2 linked regions of the Homo sapiens genome follow. Each later gene encodes a partner of the first gene's protein in a complex. Each region holds a gene or a part of one and is shown in the gene's direction. Other genes may lie near its edges. The genes, in order: RAP1GDS1 and RHOA.

Region 1 (10,641 bases):
TGAGCATTTTTCATTATTTGTAAAGCTGACATAATAATACCTCATACATAGCACTATTATATTATTTAATAGTAATATATGAGAATTTCTGACACATAAATAATTCCACACAACCTCTAATCAATCATCAAGCCAATACCACTTCCTTGATATTTCTCAAGATTGTCCATTATTGTCTAACCCCACTGCTTTTATTTTAGTTCAGCTCATACCTGGAATATTATGAGAGTCTCTTAATAGTCTCTCAGTCTCTGGTCTACACTCCATTCTTAGCCATTTTCTACTTTGCGACTACTAAAATATAAATTTAACAATGTCGCTTTTAAACTTAAAATCCTCTAATGGCTCCCTGATTCCCTTAGGATACTGTCCAATATCCTAAGTCAGATGTCAAGGCCCTACAAGATTTGATCCCTCTAACTTCTCCATTCTTGTCGCATGACCTTCTCTCTTTCCCTACATCTTTGCATGCTTCATGCTAGCCAGAAAACACTGCTTGCAGGTTTCTTAAAGATTCAGACTCTTGCCTCCAGGTCTGTGTACATTTAGCCCTCTGCATAGTTGACTCTATTCATTCTTCAGGTCTCTGCTCAGATAGCATCTTCTCCAGGAGGTTTTCTATGATAGAGTTAAATGTTATACCCATATTCTTCCACACTACCCCATTGTGGTAGTTGTAGCACTATATTTTAACTATTTACATGTCTGTCTCTATCACTATACTCTTTCAGGACCAAAAATTCACCCTGTATACCTAATTCCCAGACAGAATGATGCATCTCTTAATGTTACTTAAATTACAATAATTACGGCTGGGCACGGTGGCTCACACCTGTAATCCCAACACTTTGGGAGGCTGAGGCGGGCAGATCACAAGGTCAGTAGTTCGAGACCAGCCTGGCCAATATGGTGAAACTCCATCTCTACTAAAAATACAAAAATTAGCTGGGTGTGGTGGCGGGCGCCTGTAGCCCCAGCTACTCAGGAGGCTGAGGCAGAAGAATCCGTTGAACCCAGGAGGTGGAGGTTGCAGTGAGCCAAGATTGCCATTGCACTCCAGCCTGGGCAACAGAATGAAACTCCGTCTCAAAAAAAAAAAAAAAAAAAAGAAAAAAGAAAAAAAGAAAAAGAAAAAATTACAATAATTACTAAAATTATAATATTAAATAACAATAAAAATTACTTTCTTTGATGCACTATTTCTCCTCCTTCTATACTGTTTTCGCCATGCTATTCCATTTCTCAAGAAACTTTCAATGGTTTATTTCCTAACTTAACAAGTTTAAATTCCTCTGGCTGGCTTTTTCAGCCCCTCACAATCTGTTCTTCATACTAAATTTTTAATCTTATTTCTCAAGATGCCACAATAAGTATCCCTGCATCGTTTTTTTGTTTTTTGGTTTTTTTTTGTTTTTTTTTTTTTGAGACAGAGTCTCACTCCCTCACCCAGGCTGGAGTGCAGTGGTGTGATCTTGGCTCACCGCAACCTCCACCTCCTGGGTTAAAGTGATTCTCCTGCCTCAGTCTCCCAAGTAGCTGGGACCACAGGCACGCGCCACCACGCCCAGCTAATTTTTGTATTTTTAGTAGAGAAGAGGTTTCGCTATGTTGGCCAGGCTGGTCTTGAACTCCTGACTTCAAGTGATCCGCCTGCCTCGGCCTCCCAAAGTGCTGGGATTACAGGTGTGAGCAACCGCACCCGGCCAATATGTACCCTTTTTAATGGTCTTATGAATATGGCCTATAGGTGTCTTACCACATGCTGTTTCCCTGTCTTGGAGTAAATTCTTTTCTTCCCATCCTTTCTCGGAAAAATTCTATCCATTCTTCAGGTATGTTCTCCTTATACAGCTATCTTTAACTAGTAGGAAGAGACTTTTAAGAGAGATTGTTCTTACTCTCTTGTTTTGCATGATATGTACTTATAGCTATTTCTTTTTTTTTTTTTTTTTTTTTTTGAGACGAAGTCTTGCTCTGTCGCCCAGGCTGGAATGCACTGGCACGATCTCGGCTCACTGCAAGCTCTGCCTCCCGGGTTCACGCCATTCTCCTGCCTCAGCCTCCCGAGTAGCTGGGACTACAGGTGCCCGCCACCATGCCTGGTTTATTTTTGTATTTTTAGTAGAGACGGGGTTTCACCATGTTAGCCAGGATGGTCTCGATCTCCTGACCTCGTAATCCACCCGCTTCGGCCTCCCAAAGTGCTGGGATTACAGGCATGAGCCACCGCGCCTGGCCCTTATAGCTGTTCTTTTATAGCATCTAGCACAGTGCTGAGCTCAGAAGAAATGTTCAATAACTACATGACTGATTTTAAAGTGGTATATCCCATCTAAAAACTGTATGTAATCTAGGTCTGTTGTTGCTTGAAACATGTAGACATTAGTTTGAGGTGACAGCCTATGAAAATAATTTAGATTTTACAACATTTAGAAAATGGCTAAAATATTAAATAAATGGAGAGCGGGGGAGAAAGAGGTTACATTGAGGTTAAGACATTTCAGTTGTTCAACCTGGACTAACTTGATCTCACCAATGAAGTCTCTGAAAAATAAACAGTTTAGGCAGAAGGCTGTTCACTGCCAAATCATTTTCTATCACCGCAAAGTTCAATTAACTACTCCAGTGAAATTCCCTTAAATGATATTCAGAACATCATGGTGAACAGGAGGCAATCAGTTCCCTATTATACTTTTAAAGAACATTCTCTCCTCTCTTTCCACTTCTTGTTGTGTTGCCCCTCCCAATAGATTTCCTCTAAAGAATTTAAATCACCTTCTAACCTCTTTAAGCTTACATGCATCAATGAGGTAAGTTATAAGTCTTGCCAAAATGTACTGCTTCTGATCTTTTCTAAAAGACATTTTCCTTGATACTCCCCCATAACAGCTATTTAGTAATCATAAACCAATTTTCAACAGAAATTGTTATTCAAATAAATCCGTGATACTTTATAAATATGACATTTCCTAGATTGAAGTTGAAAACCTTTGCACTGGGCCAGAACTTCCTTTGTTTTGTAGCAGGCCTGATAAAATCCTGACCATTGCCTAACATACAGTATGGGTATTAGTAGATCGATTTTGGAAGAGTCTCTTGACATCAGGGATGTCAAGAGATGTAGATATAAGGTGTTGCTATCTTGTACTGGCTGCTCTCAGAATCCTGACCTCAAGTGATCCTCCCTCCTCGGCCTCCCTAAGTGCTGGAATTATAGGTGTGAGCCACCATACCTAGCAAATTTTTATTAAGCACTTGCTATGTGCTAGCACTATTTAGGCACGGGGGTTATAATGGTAAATACAGCAGACAAAAATTATTTCCCTAGGAGAACTTACATTTAAATGTGGGAGACAGTCCAAAAGCAAAATATATATTATCTTATTGATAACTGCTAAGGAAAAAAAATAAAGTATAGAAGTGGGGATATGAAATGGGAAGGAGTGTTGAAATTTTAGATAAGATAACTAGGGAAGACATCATGCAGGTAACTTTTGAATAAAGACATAAAGGAAGAAAGTAAAGATATGAGACAGAAACATTATATTCTTATAATAGAACAAGAAAGGAGAGGGGAAGGGAGGTGGCATTGTGTGTGCAAGGAGTAGGCAATATACCAGTCTGGAAGTAATTCACTTCTGCATATAACAATCAGTATTGGTTCTCACTATGGTTACAACACCGGTGCATTAGGACTCAGTATATGCACTAAGCCTGAACAATCCTTTGGTTTTAATTGGCAGGAAGGCTAAGGAGATGGCTTGTAGATTGAAGTAGAACAAAAAAGGCACTTTAACTAGTGTCAGATGGGAAATGAGAAAGCCACTTCAGCTGCTTTTGCTAATTTCAACGCTTACATCCAAATAAATGATAGAAGATACTCCATGAAATTATTATAATATGTAATTAGATAAGGAAGTAGGAAAAATAAAGCAAGTTAACTTGACAATCTGGAAGAGATTAATGAGTGTTAAGGAGAGATGAACAAAAAATGATGAGCAGCAATGCAAAGGCCCAGGCTGGTCTTCTGGAGGAGTAATAAAATTAATGTGTAACATGGCCGATGTGGGGGCAGTGAGGGGCCCTGAGGGTGGGGTCTGCATTGGTGTATTATGGGTTGAATTGTGTACCCCTCCCGGATTCTTTTTTTTTATTTTTATTTTTTTTGAGACAGGGTCTTGCTCTGTGGCCCAGGCTGGAGTGCAGTGGTGCAATCTCAGCTCACTGCAACCTCCGCCTCCCGGGTTCAAGCGATTCTCCTGCCTCAGCCTCCCAAGTAGCTGGGATTACAGACACGTGCCACCATGCCCAGCTAATTTATTTATTTTATTTATTTTTTAGTAGAAATAGGGTTTTGCCATGTTGGCCAGGCTGATCTCCAGCTCCTGACTTAAGTGATCTGCCCTCCTGAGCCTCCCAAAGTGTTAGGATTACAGGCGTGAGCCACTGTGCCTGGCCCTGGCTAATTTTTTGTATTTTTAGTTAGAGATGGGGTTTCGTCATGTTGGCCAGGCTGGCCCTATTCATATGTAGAAGTCCTAACCCTTAGTCCCTTAGAATGTGACCTGATTTGGAAATAGGGTCATTGCAGATATAATTAACGTCCATGAGGTCATACTGGAGGATGGTTCGCCCCTAATCCGTTATGACTGCTGTTCTTATTAAAAAGGGAAATTTGAACACACAAGCACACTGGGAGAACAGCCATGTTCAGATTGGAGTTACGCTACCATATGCCAAGAAACTACCAGAAGCTAGGAGAGGCATGGACGAGATCCCTCCCCAGTGCCCTCAGAGGGAGTACAGCCCTGCCTACACCTTGATTTCAAACTTCTGGCCTCCAGAATTGTGAGATAATAATTTGTTGTTTTAAGTCACCCAATTTGTGGTATGTTACGGCAGCCCTAGGGAACTAATGTAGTGCGATTATTTTAAGAGGCAAACAAGAAGAACATCCTAAGAGTGAGGTGCCTGATAGTCTCATGCATCAGAAAAGTCCCATATATTTGACTTCAGCAGTTAAATTGTATTTTCCTGTTTTACCAAACCTTTTTAATTATCGTTTCTTGCTGTAGAAAAATCACATAAAATCTGCTCTTTGCTTAACAAATTACAGGGTCGCTTCTGATTTGTGTGCTCGAAATACTAGTCACCAAGCAGAAACTGATGACTGTGAGAATAGGCGACTAATTAACAAACAAACAAAAAAAGCCCTTTCTCAACATTGGATTGACCGAGTGAAAGTTGACAGGGGAAAGACACCTCGATTCAGCCATCTTTCTCCAACAGGTTGTACTGCTGACTGCACAGTGTCCCCTGAAGGACTCCGGTCGCTGTAGCCTTGGAGAGCGACCAGATTCCTCACCCCACTCAGGAGGAGCCAGGGCAAGATTAGGGTGCAGAGAAATCGGTTTCCTCCAGCCTCCTACCCCAGGGAAGAGGACCGAAGCCAGCCCCGGCCTCACGTGCATGCCCAGTCGGGAGGACGCCCTCAGTGGGAGAGCCCTGCTCAGGTTCTCCCCGAGGCCGAGGTGGTGGTGGGAGCGGGCGGTGGCCCCGGGATCAAAGGACCTCCGCCGGGTTAGCTTTGGCAGTGCCGCAGCCAACCCAGCAGGACGCTTATTTTCAAGCCTGGGGAACGTAGTTCCTCCCGCTTTCACAGCAGGATGGAGCCCGACGGCACCCCGGTTAAAGGGCCTTTCCAGAGCCCTCCGGGGAACGGAAGGCCGCGCTCCTCCGGGAGGGAGAACGACACACTCTTCGAGGAAATCCTGGGGCGGGCGCTCTCCTCGCTGCCGGGACCTTTGTTTCTAAGCTGGCCACAGCTAGAGCAGCCTTAAGTGTCCCAATGACACGCCTGCTATCGAGCGCCCTCCCGGCGGCCCCTCCTCAGCCAGCTGCCCAGCGGGCGTCCTCAGGTGTCCCCAAGAGGCGCAGGCCTAGTCGCCTACACGTCCTTTCCAACTTCGTCAGCTCTGGCTTCCCACCACCCCTCCCGGCTCTGCGGCGGCCCAGCCTCTTCTCCGGTTAATTCCGGCCTGTGCGGCCCGGTCGTCCCGTAAAGAAGGCAAGCCCGGGTTCCGGGTGAGGGGTTGGTGGGTCAGGGTGGGAAAGCAAGGCAGCGGTGAGTCCTCTGCTAGCAGATCGGGCTCAATATCCCCATTCCCTGTTTTCTCCGGGCCCGCCCTCCGCCTCTCAGGCGGCCGCCATGAAGATCCTCTGCCGCGGCTGCAGCCGGTCTGCAAACACACGCCCACCCGCACGCTTAGCCTCGCTCGCCACAGAGGGAGGGGTGGAAAAGGCACTGAGCATGCTCGGTGGGGAGGGCGGGGCGCTCGTGGGCTGCGAGTCGGGGCCGGAGCTCTTCAGGCCGGCTCCCGCGCCTCCGCCGCCCGCCCGCTCGGAGCCGCGCCCGCCGCAGGCTGCGCCCGCCAGTCCCGCCCCGCCCCGCCCCGCCCCGCCCCCCGCCGCTCGTCCCCGCCGCGGCCGCGCCGCCTGCAGCAGCACCAGCTGCTCCTCCCCGGCGGCCGCCCCCCGCGGGTCCCTCCCTGGCTGCGGGAGAGACGGAGGTAGAGGGAGGACACAGAGCCGCGCCGCCCGCACCACAGACCTTCGCCTCGCCCCGCCGGTTCCTCACCCTCGGGGAGCAACATGGGTAAGTCATCCTTCCTCCGCCGTCATCGCCTGACATTTTTTTCTTTCTCGGCGTGCTGCAGGGTGGGAAGCATTTCTCGCGCAAAGTTGCCGGATTTCTCCAGTCCCCGGGTGTGAGACGGTGGCTGTTCCTCCGGGGAGAGTCGGCGCACGCGGAACGCACGCCGGGTGCCGGGGCTGGGAGGGTCCCGAGCGCGGGCTGGGGTGGGGTCGGCCGCGGGCCGGACCGCCGCCCGGCTCCCCGGCACCTCGCAGCCTCGCCTCCCCTCCTCCATTCTTCCTGCCGGTGCCCGGGCACCACGGAGCCTGCCTCGCGGGCTCGCATCTGCAGCTCCATCCCCGTTTCTCCAGAGGCCGCCCGCTTCCTTTTCCCCCGCGTGTACTGAGCTCGAGGCTCGGGTCCGACCACTACCACTTCGTGTAACTTCCTTCTCTGTCAGTGCGACCTTTCCCCGTCGTGGAGACTCCTCATCCCGGGCGGGGAAGTGGAAGCAAGTAGTTTGTGAGGGAGATCTTACAACCTGCACGGAAATTATTTTCCAAGGGGGAGAGCGGACAGCCTCATAGGTTGAAAGGATGACTTGTCAGAGGCCACGAGGAACGTGAGGCAGGATAGAGCCGCTAGCTGTTGAATTAGTGCTGGGTGACTACAGTGTGCAATATTCCCGTGCCCAGCCTATTTTCTGGATTCCTTCGTCCGTCTTCTGTAGCAGGAAACTGCGCCCTGTAACGTTGTTACCGAACTTACATGGTAGTTATTCTTTCCCAGCTTCCTCCTGTCTAATCTGCATAATCTGATTTTAGTTCCTTTGTATTTATAGTTAATCTGAAGAGATTGGTTTGGATGAGAGATTTAAGAGCAAATATGTTTTATAAAACGATATATACATTTGACCTAATTTTTTTACATCATCTATTGCTTAACTGTTACATTCAGTAATCACAGAAACGTCTGATGAATGCTGTCATGTAATTAAGAGCTCAAAGTTTCTTTTAATAGTAGCGACTTGTACTAAGTTCCCCAGTTTGCTTCCACTCCTGTCTGTCATAATTTCCTCTTTTTAAAATTTGCTCCCTTGGCATCTGTCAGCTGGGACTTTTCCCACCCCTTCTGTGCGAGTTATTTAAAGCTTGAGATGAATGTGGTCCTTTCATCTGTTAATACAGTGCTCAACACGTTCAGAGTTAGGTGGTGCAACTCAGAATCTTCAAGAAGTATCTAAACCTGGGAATGGTGTCCATAGAGTTTTCTGGAACAGCAAATGCTTCAGGCTTTGATCCCGACCTTTGGCCATATATCTGGAAGAGGCCAGGGTTGACGGAGGAGGTGGTATGAATCAAAAAAGGTCTAGGGCTCTGAATTTTATTTTCAGTTGTTTTTTCTTTTTAACGTGAGTACTCGATATGCTGAACAAATTTCTGTAAAAATTGGGTGGCCCATTTATGCGTGTCTGCCTTTCTCTTAAAGTAGATTTTTAAATAGGTATTATATCAGATTATTGGACAAGCTGTATATTTCCGTCGAACATACACACGTTTATGTGTGTTCCCTTTGAACATACACAGATAAAATACACTTTGAAATAAAATTCCTTTGAACATACATACACAGATAAGTGTGTGTATGTTCAAAGGAAATATACAGTATGTCCAATAACCCTATCTGATATTGGACTGTAAGTTCAAGTTTGGCTTGCAAAATATATTTTCCCATGTTTCCAGGTGAGCCTTAAACAATCCATTTAACATTTTAGCTTACATGTTAAATCCGTACTTTTTCAGTGGAAAAAATCCAATTCCGTTACAACACTGGTGAATAAAAATACCTAAAAGAAATTATCTACTTAAAAATAATCTTCAAAATCTTGAGTGCTATTGCTTGATTTTTAAAAAGGGCCAAATAGAAACCTATCTCTCATTTTGAAGCCATCTCTGATACTCTTTGGTTAATCTGTCTCTTCATAAGCACTGTTTGTACCTTGTTAGAAGCTTTTTAGCACTTACGTAATCTACCATATAATAAAGTTGTTTATGTGTGTGCTGTGCATTTAATCATGAGTCCCAGAAGATGAAAAGTGTCTTATTATTTTTTGTGTTCCCCACAGTGCTTTTCAAATAGAAATTCAGTAAATCTTTGGCAAATTGTTGAACTTAAAGCCACCTATTATTTTCAACTTTTGAACCTGAAGATATAGTCTTCATCTGAACAAACATTTGGGTTGGTACATATTATCTAGTTGGGGGATAAGCAGAAACAGAAAGGTATAATTGTACCATGCCTCCCAGTACACTGTAGGTTGGTTTTGAGTCAACCTCAGGCAATCTGTTTCCTTCTAAACTCTCTTCAATGGTAAGGCAGTTTCATGTATGATCAGTAGGTACATATGATAATTTAAAATTGAAACCTTGGGGAACAGTTTTATATCTGGGCCAAGGAAGTTAGTATAACAATTCATGTACACATAAGAAGGTAGAAGGTATACTGGTTAATGATGAGGGGAGGGAGAAGTGCTTTTTAATTTGTCTCAAGAAATAAATAAGGTTGATTTTTAAAGATAGTCTCAGCCGGGCGCGCACTTTGGGAGGCCGAGGCGGGCGGATCACCTGAGGTCAGGAGTTGGAGACCAGCCTGACTAACATGGTAAAACCCTGTCTCTACTAAAAATACAAAAAAACAATTAGCCGGGTGTGGTGGCGGGCGCCTGTAATCCCAGCTGTTTGGGAGGCTGAGGCAGGAGAATCACTTGAACCCGGGAGGCGGAGTTTGCAGTGAGCCGAGATCATGCCATTGCACTCCAGCCTGGGCAACAAGAGGGAAACTCTGTCTCAAAAAAAATATATATATATATTCTCATGGCAATAATTTCCTACACAAGAGAGTGAAAGAAAAGTCCTATATAACTTTATGGCCATAGCTACTATTTTATGTATATGTCATATTTCAGATTCAACATACATTTAGTGTTTGTTGGATATCAACTGTGCAGTGTACTGTACTACAGTGTACTGGGAGGACAAAGATAAAAAGATATTCATGTTTCACATTTATAATCTTAGCAGGAACAATATGACACATACACAAATTATAATAGAAGTAAAAGTATAAGTTATATAAAAGACCTTTACATATATTATAGATTCAGAGAATGGAGAGAACGTTTTAGAGAAATGGTGTTATTTGAACCAAAGGTGGGTTAAACTTCTTAAAGGTAGAAATGAGACTGTTAATCAGAATGGAGTTGGTCTGGGGTTGGAAGAGAAATGACATAAATGAAGATAGATAGGAAACATTTTATGAATTTCCAGGATATGATTAAACAGCATTGTTTGGCTAGAGCAAAAGGTAAGGAAATAGTGGGTAACAGACATGAAAAAGTAGTACAGTAATAGCTAATGACCAGATAATGTAGGATCTAAAATGCCAAGCTGAAGAATTTTAATCTGACTTACCTATTGAGAGACCACTAAACATTTTTATGTAGTTAAGTGATGGATCACATCTGTGGTATAGGAAAATTTGTCAGTTGAGTGCAGGATCGATTAGATGAGAAACTACAGAACACTTCAGAAGATTGTTGTTGGAGTTTGGACGAAAATGTTTAATGGCTTGAACCAGGTTATGGCAACGGGAATAGAATATTGCAAATAAAGAATAGGATTTACTTGGCAACCCATTGAGTATGGAATTGAGAGTCACAGGTTTTAGCCTGGGTGATAATGAGGATACGAGAATCTCCTGATACATATTCAGTTAACAGGAAGAGGAAACTTAGATACTCAATTTTGGACCTATTGCATTAGACTTTTTGGTCTGTCCTTTAGTCTCTGCTCCTTGATAACAAGGACGTTGTCATATTAGGATTTGAATACATTTCTAACACTAGTGTCTGGCACATAGTAGCTACATAGAAAAATTGTGTTGACTGACTGAAACTAGATAAAAAATAGTTGACAAACATTTATTTTAACTTTCGAGAGTACAATTTG
Region 2 (10,507 bases), on another chromosome or scaffold:
TCCTAATTGAGTCAAGGTCTCACTGCCTAGGCTGCAGTGCAGTGGCACAATCTCTGCTTACTGCAACCTCCGCCTCCCGGGCTCAAGCAGTCCTCCCACCTCAGTCTCCCAAGTAGCTGGGACTACAGGCGTGCACCACCACAGTCAGCTAATTTTTTTTTTTTTTTAAATGGAGTTTCGCTCTTGTTGGCCAGGCTGGAGTGCAGTGGTGCAATCTCAGCTCATTGCAACCTCCACTCATTGCAACCTCCGCCTCCTGGGTTCAAGCGATTCTCCTGCCTCAGCCTCCTGAGTAGCTGGGATTACAGGCATGCTTCACCACGCCCAGCTAATTTTGTATTTTCAGTAGAGATGGGGTTTCTCCACATTTGTCAGGCTAGTCTCGAACTTCCGACTTCAGGTGATCCGCCCGCCTTGGCCTCCCAAAGTGCTGGGATTACAGGCGTGAGCCACCGCACCCAGCCCACACTCAGCTAAGTTTTATTTTATTTATTTTTTTTTTTTTTAGAGATGGAGGCTCGCTTTGTCGCCCATGCTGGAGTGCTGGAGTGCAGTGGCACGATCTTGGCTCACTGCAACCTTTGCCTCTCGAGTTCAAGCAATTCACCTGCCTTAGCCTCTCCAGTAGCTGGGACTACAGGCGCACGCTGCCGTGCCTGGCTAATTTCTTTCGTATTTTAGTAGGGACGGGGTTTCACCATGTTGCCCAGGCTGGTCTCGAACTCCTGAGCTCAGGCAGTCAGCCCGCCTCAGCCTCCCAAAGTGCTAGGATTACAGGCATGAGCCACCGCGCCTGGCCACACTCAGCTAATTTTTAAGGTGTTTTTGTAGAGGTGGGTTCTCAGATTTTCAATTTTGAGAAATTTCAACCTAAAATAATTTAAATATACTCTCATTTGAGCTTGATGCTCATAAAAGTGAATACTCGGCCGGGTGTGGTGGCTCATGCCTGTAATCCCAGCACTTTGGGAGGCCGAGGCAGGCGGATCACGAGGTCAGGAGATCAAGACCATCCTGGCTAACATGGTGAAACCCCGTCTCTACTAAAAGTACGAAAAATTAGCCAAGCGTGGTGGCGGGCGCCTGTAGTCCCAGCTGCTCAGGAGGCTGAGGCAGGAGAATGGCATGAACCCGGGGGCAGAGCTTGCAGTGAGCCAAGATCTTGCCACTGAACTCCAGTCTGAGCAACAGAGTAAGACTCCGTCTCAACAAAAAAAAAAAAAAAAAAAAAAAAAAAAAAAAAGGCCAGGCGCGGTGGGTCACGCCTGCAATCCCAACACTTTGGGAGGCCGAGGCGGACGGATCATGAGGTCAGGAGATCCAGACCATCCTGGCTAACACAGTGAAACCCCGTCTCTACTAAAAATACAAAAAATTAGCCGGGTGTGATGGCGGGCACCTGTAGTCCCAGCTACTTGGGAGGCCAAGGCAGGAGAATGGTGTGAACCCGGGAGACGGAGCTTGCAGGGAGCAGAGATCGCGCCACTGCACTCTAGCCTGGGCGACAGAGCAAGACTACATCTCAAAAAAAAAAAAAAAAAAGAAAAAAGAAAAAATGTAAATACTCCTGTGTTTTACTGTTTTAGACCGTCTGCCATTTCAATGGTCTGCCATTTCAATGTACTATGGTAAGTGTCACTTTTTCTAAAAGTGGGTGGGGGGATTAACCTTGCACTCTTGTGGTTGTTTTTCCCATTACAGGTAGAGTTGGCTTTGTGGGACACAGCTGGGCAGGAAGATTATGATCGCCTGAGGCCCCTCTCCTACCCAGATACCGATGTTATACTGATGTGTTTTTCCATCGACAGCCCTGATAGTTTAGGTGAGTGGCCCTGCACCCTGATATTTGTCACTGCCTGTGTAGCTAGTTGGCATCTGGTTTCTGGGCATCAAGTGGCTGAAAAGCAGACATGAACTTCAGAGAAGCAATCATCGTCAGTGGCCGGAGTCCTGGAGTTTGGGATTGTAGAGCGTGGGCCTTGGGTCCCTTTCAGCCTAGGTCTCCCATGGGTACTGTATTTAAAATGTATCCACCTAGGCAGGGCACGGTGCCTGACACCTATAATCCCTGCGCTTTGGGAGGTCCAGACGGGTGGATCACCTGAGGGTCAGGAGTTCAAGACCAGCCTGGCCAACATGGTGAAACCCCGTCTTTACTAAAAGTACAAAAAAATTAGCCAGGCATGGTGGTGCACGCCTGTAGTCCCAGGTACTTGGGAGGCTGAGGCAGGAGAATCGTTTGAACCTGGTAGGTGGAGATTGCAGTGAGCCGAGATTATGGCACTGCATTCCAGACTGAGCAACAGAGCAAGACTCTATCTCAAAAATAATAATTATTATTATTATTACTAAATAATATTAAATGTTATTTAAAAATCTAACTGCCTTGTAAACTAGATGAATTCCAGATACAAAGATGAGTAAACTAAGGCTGGTGCGGCGGCTGACACCTGTAATCCTAGCACTTTGGGAGGCCGAGGCTGGCAGATCACCTGAGGTCAGGAGTTTGAGACCAGCCTAGGCAACATGGTGAACCCCTTGTCTCTACTAAAATACAAAAATTAGCTGGGTGTGGTGGCGTGCACTTGTAATCCCAGCTATTCCAGGGGCTGAGGCAGGAGAATCACTTGAGCCTGGGAAGCAGAAGTTGCAGTGAGCCAAGATCATGCCACTGTACTGCAGACTCCATCTCCCAAAAAAAAAGATGAGCAAACTAGATGAGTTCCAAATGTAAAGCCATCTCTTTTGGGGAAAGACTTTCTTTTTTTTGGTTGCCCTGTCTTAGCCTTTTTCTGAAGTGTCTTAGCTGATAGAAGCTTGAATGTGATCATTTCATTAGCCTAAACACAGCCACATAATTCAGAAGTCAGTAAGTCAGTATTCTTTTTTTTTTTTTTTTTTTTTTTTGAGAGGGAGTCTTGCTCTGTCTCCCAGGCTGGATTGCAGCAGCTTGATCTCAGCTCACTGCAAGCTCTGCCTCCTGGGTTGATGCCATTCTCCTGCCTCAGCCACCCAAGTAGCTGGGACTACAGGTGGCCACCACCACGCCCGGCTAATTTTTTGTATTTTTTAGTAGAGATGGGATTTCACCACGTTAGCCAGGATGATCTTGATCTCCTGACCTCGTGATCCGCCTGCCTCGGCCTCCCAAAGTGCTGGGATTACAGGCGTGAGCCACTGCGCCTGGCCCAGAAGTCAGTATTCTTTAGAAAAAGACTGAAGAATGCTAACCTGACATTCTGTGAAACCAGGCTTGAAAAAACTTGCTTTAGGTTTGTGCTGAAGATGATGAGGTATCTATTAATAAACTTGTGCTGCAGCCCTCCCTGTCATGACAGGGCAGCAGGTGGGTCAAGGATGTTGTCGTCATTACCACAAACAGCCTTTGAGGGTCTGCTTGTGGCCTCGGGTTGCCTGGATAGTTAGTGTTAGAGTGATTGTGTTGTTATGGTTGTCCCTACCTTAATGATGATAACTGGGGTTGCTCCAAGATATTGAGCCACTTGTTTAAGGTCATGCTGGCCCAAGGAGCTGAGCTAAGATTGAGTCCTCTGTGCAGTATGTCCCAGGACAGAGAAAGAGCACGTATTCCATGCCGTTGGTTCACTTAGATCATTTTCAGCAGTTATGATTGATTGATTGATTTAGAGGCGGGGTCTCGCTCTGTTGCCCAGGCTGGAGTTGAGTGGCACAATCTTGGCTCACTGCAACCTCCGCCTTCCAGGTTCAAGCAAATCTCCTGTCTCAGCCTCCCAAGTAGCTTGGACTACAGGCATACGCCCCCACGCCTGGGTGATTTTTGTATTTTTAGTAGAGACCGGGTTTCTCCGTGTTGGCCAGGCTTCTCTCAAACTTCTGACCTCTGGTGATCCACTCACCTTGGCCTCCCAAAGTGCTGGGATTACAGGTGTGAGCCACCACACCCAGCCTAGTTTTGGTTTTCAAACTAATATGACTTCCTTTTGTGAAGCTGCTGGAAGGCCCTGGAGGCTGGGCAGAGCTTTAGGCCACAGAGAAAATTTGAGCTAGTTGACACTCTCCTATCAGATACACACATAAATAACTTCACCTAGATCCTATTGGAATGAGAAGGACTGTGTGCCTTTGCCCTCGTTATCTAGTGTATAATTCTTGAGGGAAAAAACTGCCTCCAGAGCAAAACATTTTGTCTCTTCAGTCTCACTTTTTTCTTTTTGAGACAGGGTCTCGCTTTCTTGCCCAGTCTTGAGTGCAGTTGCAGATTCAGTTTACTGCTGCCTCGACCTCCTGGGCTCAAACAATCCTCCCATCTCAGTCCCCACCCAGTAGTTGGTACTACAGGCACACACTGCTGCGCTTGGTTAATTTTTATATTTTTTAGGCCGGGCATGGTGGCTCACGCCTGTAATCCCAGCACTTCGGGAGGCTGAGGTAGGCGGATCACCTGAGGTCAGGAGTTCGAGACCAGCCTGGCCAACATGGTGAAATCCTGTCGCTACTAAAAATACAAAACTTAGCCAAGTATGGTGGCATGTACCTGTAATCCCAGCTACTCAGGAGGCTGAGGCAGGAGAATTGCTTGAACCTGGGAGGCAGAGGTTGCAGTGAGCCGAGATCGCATCACTGCACTCCAGCCTAGGTGACAGAGTGAGACTCTTGTCTCAAAAAAAAAAAAAAAAAAAGTTTGAAAATTTATTCACCAAAAGTGGCGACAGTCAATTTATTCAAATTCTATGTACCTCAAACTCCAGGAAGGGGGTAGACTATTGGTATAATTTCACATATTCAGGAAATAACTACAGCACCTACTAACAGAACATCTATTCTAGGCCAGGCACTGTGGCTCACACCTGTAATCCCACCACTTTGGGAGGCCAAGGTGGGTGGATCCTGAGGTCAGGAGTTCAAGACCAGCCTGTCCAACATGGTGAATCCCTGTCTCTACTAAAAATACAAAAAAATCATCCGGGCGTGGTGGCGAGTGCCTGTAATCCCAGCTACTCGGGAGGCTGAGGCAGGAGAATTGCTTGAACCCGGGAGGCAGAGGTTGTAGTGAGCTGAGATTGCGCCACTGCGCTCCAGCCTGGGCGACAGAGCAAGAGTCCATCTAAAAAAAAAAAAAAAAAACTTCTGTTCTAGATGAGGGAAGACAGAATAGGCTCCCCTCAATGCCCCCAAAAAAGTAAATCAGAAAATAACAACAGTAAACCCAGTAACAGTAAATATTACAAATAACATTTGTAGAGGTGGGTCATGGTTGTATGCTGTTTTGTTTTATTTATTTTTATTTTTGTTTTTTTGAGACAGACTTTTGCTCTTGTCACGCAGGCTGGAGTGCAATGGTGCGATCTCAGCTCACTGCACTCCGCCTCCCGGGTTCAAGCACTTCTTCTGCCTCAGCCTCCCAAGTAGCTGGGATTACAGGCATGCACCACCATGCCTGACTAATTTTTGTATTATTAGTAGAGACAGGGTTTCAACATGTTGGCCAGACTGGTCTCAAACTCCTGATCCACCTGCCTCGGCCTCCCAAAGTGCTGAGATTACAGGCCTGATGAGCCACTGCACCTGGTCTATTTATTTTTATTTATTTATTTATTTATTTATTTTGAGACGGAGTCTCGCTCTGTCGCCCAGGCTGGAGGGCAGTGGCACGATCTTGGCTCACTGCAACCTCCACCTCCCTGGTTCAAGGAATTTCCCTGCCTCAGCCTCCCTAGTAGCTGGGATTACAGGTGTGCACCACCATGCCCAGTTAATTTTTTTGTTTTGTTTTGTTGTTTTTGAGACGGAGTTTCGCTCTTGTTGCCCAGGCTGGAGTGCAATGGCACGATCTCGGCTCACTGCAACTTCCGCCTCCCGGGTTCAAGCGATTCTCCAGCCTCAGCCTCTCAAGTAGCTGGGATTGCAGGCATGTGCCACCACGCCCAGCTAATTTTGTATTTTTAGTAGAGACGGGGTTTCTCCATGTTGGTTATGCTGGTCTCCCAACTCCCGACCTGAGGTGATCCACCCGCCCCGGCCTTCACAGTGCTGGGATTATAGGCATGAACCACTGCGCCTGGCAATCTTTTTGTATTTTTAATAGAGATGGGGTTTCACCATGTTGGCCAGACTGGTCTCGAACTCCTGACCTAACGCGATCCACCTGCCTCAGCCTCTCAAAGTTTTGGGATTATAGACGTGAGCCACTGCGCCCAGCCTATTTATTTGTTTTTAAGAGATGAAGTCTCACTTTGTCACCCTGGCTGGAGTGCAGTAGTAGCGTGATCATAGCTCACTGCTACCTTGAATCCTGGACTCCAGTGATCCTCCCACCTCAGCCTCTCAAGTAGGTGGGAATGCAGGCACATGTACCACTGTAAACTGCTAAGTTTTTGTATGTTTTTGTGGAGATGGGGTTTTTGACTTTTTTGATACAGAGTCTCACTCTGTTGCCCAGGCTGGAGTGAGTGTAGTATTGCGATCTCGACTCATCACAACCTCCACCTCCTGGGTTCAAGTGTTTCTTCTGCCTCAGCCTCCCAAGTAGCTGGGACTATAGGTGCACACCACTGCGCCCGGCTAATTTTAGTAATTTTAGTAGAGATGAGGTTTCGCCATGTTGGCCAGGCTGGTCTCGAACTCCTGACCTCTGGTGATCCACCCACCTAAGCCTCCCAAAGTGCTGGGATTACAGGCACGAGCCACCACGCTGTCTGGAGATGGGGTTTAGCCATGTTGCATAGGCTGTTCTTGAGCTCCTAGGCCCAAGCTGTCTACTTGCCTTAGCCTCTCAAAAGTGCTGGAATTACAAGTATGAGTCACCACGCCCAGCCTCTTTTGGTTATTTTCAAAAGTCACTTTTTTTTATTTGAGACGGAGTCTTGCTCTGTCGCCCAGGAGTGCAGTGGCGCGATCTCAGCTCATGGCAAGCTCTGCCTCCCGGGTTCACACCATTCTCCTGCCTCAGCCTCCTGAATAGCTGGGACTACAGGTGCCCACCACTACACCCGGCTAATTTTTTTTGTATTTTTAGTAGAGACGGGGTTTCACTGTGTTAGCCAGGATGGTCTCGATCTCCTGACCTCATGATCCGCCCACCTTGGCCTCCCAAAGTGCTGGGATTACAGGCATGAGCCACCGCTCCCGGCCAAAAGTCACTCTTCAGCCATTTGAAATACCAGTAAACCCCATAGGGTAGAAGTTATGCTGAGAGTTGATGAACAAGTTAGAAAAAGAACATGTGGACCCTGGGTCAGCTGCTGCCCTAGAATGGGGACCCCTTCTGTAAGCTATGTCAGAATCATCTACCAGCAGTGACAGATGTCCTGTAAAGTGCCTGCCTTTGTGGGGCAGGAAGTGCCCCCCGTGAAACTACCTTGTGTTGTGGATCTTTTGCTCCTCCAGAGCCCTTACTCGGGCCCCACCTACAGAGATGCTCAGCACCACTCTTGGCTGGACTGAGAAAAAGCTGTTGGTTCTCTGTTTAAAGGAAAGGGATTATATTTCCTTTTTATGGTTTTGAAACTAGTGAGTTTCATTAAATGTCTAGCATTTTTCTGAAGCCACAAAGAAAGTGTCTCTGCAATTTCACTGAGGTTCTTGGAAAGTCTTCAAGATAGAATTGTATGTATCCCCAAATTCTCTACATTTTTCTTTCAGAAAACATCCCAGAAAAGTGGACCCCAGAAGTCAAGCATTTCTGTCCCAACGTGCCCATCATCCTGGTTGGGAATAAGAAGGATCTTCGGAATGATGAGCACACAAGGCGGGAGCTAGCCAAGATGAAGCAGGCATGATCTGGGGCAGGACTGTCTTGTAGTATTCTTGAACTAGGGCCCCAAGTTTGGAGGTTTGGGGAGCCCAGCAGGAACCTTCACAGGCCAGGTTGTTTTAGAGGCTCAGAAGCCCCTCTGTGGCCCTCTGACCCTCATTAATTGGGATCTTCACAGAAGATCCCTAAGATAGTTCACCAGTCCTGTGAGATGGAATGTTTTTTTATGAGGTAGTGCTATGCCCATAAGGACTGCTGGCCTGAGAATGAACCATTTCATTAGTAGCTAGTAATCAGTGGCTCTAGATGTAGGAACTTTCTTTTTTTTGATATGGAGTCTCATTCTGTCACCCAGGCTGGAGTGCAGTGGCGCAATCTCAGCTCACTGCAACCTCCGCCTCCGGGGTTCAAGCGATTCTTCTGCCTCAGACTCCCGAGTAGCTGGGACTACAGGCACCCTCCACCATGACCGGCTAATTTTTTTTTTTTTTAATAGATGGGGTTTCACCCTGTTGGCCAGGCTGGTCTTGAACTCCTTACCTCAAGTGATCTGCCCACTTTTGCCTCCCAAAGTGCAGGGATTACAGGTGTGAGCCACTGTGCCTGGCCTCTGTTAGACTCTTTATTTTTATTTTTTGAGACACAGTTTTGCTTTTGTCACCCAGGCTGGAATGCAGTGATGCTATCTCGGCTGCAACCTCAGCCTCCAAGGTTTAAGTGATTCTCCTGCCTCAGCCTCCCAAGTTGCTGGGATTACAGGCATGTGCCACCACGCCTGGCTAATTTTTGTATTTTTAGTAGAGACGGGTTTTCTCCATGTTGGTCAGGCTGGTCTCAAACTCCTGACCTTAGGTGATCTGCCCGCCTTGGCCTCCCAAAGTGCTGGGATTACAGGTGTGAGCCACCACGCCCGGGCCTGTTAGACTCTTGATTGCCTTCCCCAGCTATTACTTTGGTACATGTGAGGCCAAAGATAAATTAGTGGCAACTGAAAGATAAGGAAATCTTGAAGGCTGGGAGTCCAGATAGAAAGCCCTAATGCCTTCCCTCTCCTCCACTCCCAATGCCTTTTTAAAAGTGATGATGGATGTGGCATCTTGGCCTCTCAGAAACCAGCTGGCCTAATGGCAGGGCTTCCTCACTGGAGGAGAAGCATTGAGATCTTCAACCTAAGTTCTCTTACTCAGGTTTCTCTGTCTGAATGTCAAGGGTAGGCTTTATTTCCTTCAGGGCATTTAGTCCTGGATTGGTAGCTTGAGTAATTTTGCTCTTGATTGACTCCTTAACCTTCCAGGGCTCCTCTGACCTCTTCCCTCTACTTCCCAGTGAATACCATGTTTATTAGAGATTTTATGTTTGGTAGGGGGTAGTTACCATATGTCAGTTTAAAAATTTCATAAGTTTAGCAGTTTGTTGTTTTTTTTTTTTGTTTTGTTTTTTTTGAGAAGGAGCCTCACTGTGTCGCCAGGCTGGAGTGCTGTGGCACGATCTTGGCTCAACTGCAACCTCCGCCTCCCAGATTTAAGCGATTCCCCTGCCTCAGCCTCCTGAGTAGCTGGGGTTACAGGCGCCCACTACCACACCCAGGTGATTTTTTGTATTTTAGTAAAGAGGGGTTTCACCATGTTGGCCAGGATGGTCTTGATCTCCTAAACTCGTGATCCGCCCAGCTCAGCCTCCCAAAGTGCTGGGATTACAGGTGTGAGCCACCACACCCAGCCAAGTTTAACAGCTTTTGAAAGTCTTTTTTTTTTTTAGGCTGGGTACAGTGGCTCATGCCTGTATCCCAGCACTTTGGGAGGCCGAGGTGGGCAGATCACTTGGTCAGGAGTTCGAGACCAGCCTGGCCAAAATGGTGAAACCCCATCTCTACTAAAAAATTACTTGGGCGTGGTGGTGGGCACCTGTAGTCCCAGCTACTCGGGAGGCTGAGGCGGGAGAATCCCTTGAACCCAGGAGGTGGAGGTTGCAGTCAGCTGAGATCATGCCATTGCCCTCCAGCCTGGGCGACCGACGAGCAAAACTGTCTCAAAAAAAGAAAAAAAAATCTTTTAGATGAATTTGAATACTTTTTACTTACTATATGTATGCCACACTATTAGCTAAAAGGACTATTTTTTTTTCTTTGCTAGGAGCCGGTGAAACCTGAAGAAGGCAGAGATATGGCAAACAGGATTGGCGCTTTTGGGTACATGGAGTGTTCAGCAAAGACCAAAGATGGAGTGAGAGAGGTTTTTGAAATGGCTACGAGAGCTGCTCTGCAAGCTAGACGTGGGAAGAAAAAATCTGGGTGCCTTGTCTTGTGAAACCTTGCTGCAAGCACAGCCCTTATGCGGTTAATTTTGAAGTGCTGTTTATTAATCTTAGTGTATGATTACTGGCCTTTTTCATTTATCTATAATTTACCTAAGATTACAAATCAGAAGTCATCTTGCTACCAGTATTTAGAAGCCAACTATGATTATTAACGATGTCCAACCCGTCTGGCCCACCAGGGTCCTTTTGACACTGCTCTAACAGCCCTCCTCTGCACTCCCACCTGACACACCAGGCGCTAATTCAAGGAATTTCTTAACTTCTTGCTTCTTTCTAGAAAGAGAAACAGTTGGTAACTTTTGTGAATTAGGCTGTAACTACTTTATAACTAACATGTCCTGCCTATTATCTGTCAGCTGCAAGGTACTCTGGTGAGTCACCACTTCAGGGCTTTACTCCGTAACAGATTTTGTTGGCATAGCTCTGGGGTGGGCAGTTTTTTGAAAATGGGCTCAA

The links.
Region 2: the proteins of RAP1GDS1 (region 1) and RHOA are in contact, whole or in part, in a crystal structure (PDB 5ZHX), measured with the Homo sapiens proteins. Residues at the interface, in NP_001093897.1 of Homo sapiens: Arg111, Tyr118, His121, Ser171, Glu200, Met201, Val204, Asn208, Glu211, Leu212, Glu213, Ala249, Glu253, Lys290, Thr291, Asp294, Leu295, Val297, Leu298, Leu301, Asp303, Leu334, Leu338, Ala341, Asn342, Ala344, Arg345, Asn346, Asp347, Cys350; in NP_001300870.1 of Homo sapiens: Ala3, Ile4, Arg5, Lys6, Asp13, Lys18, Lys51, Asp65, Tyr66, Asp67, Arg68, Leu69, Arg70, Pro71, Leu72, Ser73, Tyr74, Lys98, Trp99, Pro101, Glu102, His105, Phe106, Leu179, Cys190, Leu191.

The regions. Positions count from the first base shown.
Region 1 is NC_000004.12:98,254,915-98,265,555, forward strand, and holds the start of RAP1GDS1 (rap1 GTPase-GDP dissociation stimulator 1), read left to right. Parts: upstream 1-6,469; 5' UTR 6,470-6,651; coding exon 6,652-6,655; intron 6,656-10,641. UniProt on the Homo sapiens protein: Acts as a GEF (guanine nucleotide exchange factor) for the Rho family of small GTP-binding proteins (G proteins) that stimulates the dissociation of GDP to enable subsequent binding of GTP.
Region 2 is NC_000003.12:49,359,743-49,370,249, reverse strand, and holds part of RHOA (transforming protein RhoA isoform 1 precursor), read left to right. Parts: intron 1-1,701; coding exon 1,702-1,822; intron 1,823-7,623; coding exon 7,624-7,754; intron 7,755-9,183; coding exon of another isoform or gene 9,184-9,322; intron 9,323-9,867; coding exon 9,868-10,041; 3' UTR 10,042-10,507. UniProt on the Homo sapiens protein: Small GTPase which cycles between an active GTP-bound and an inactive GDP-bound state.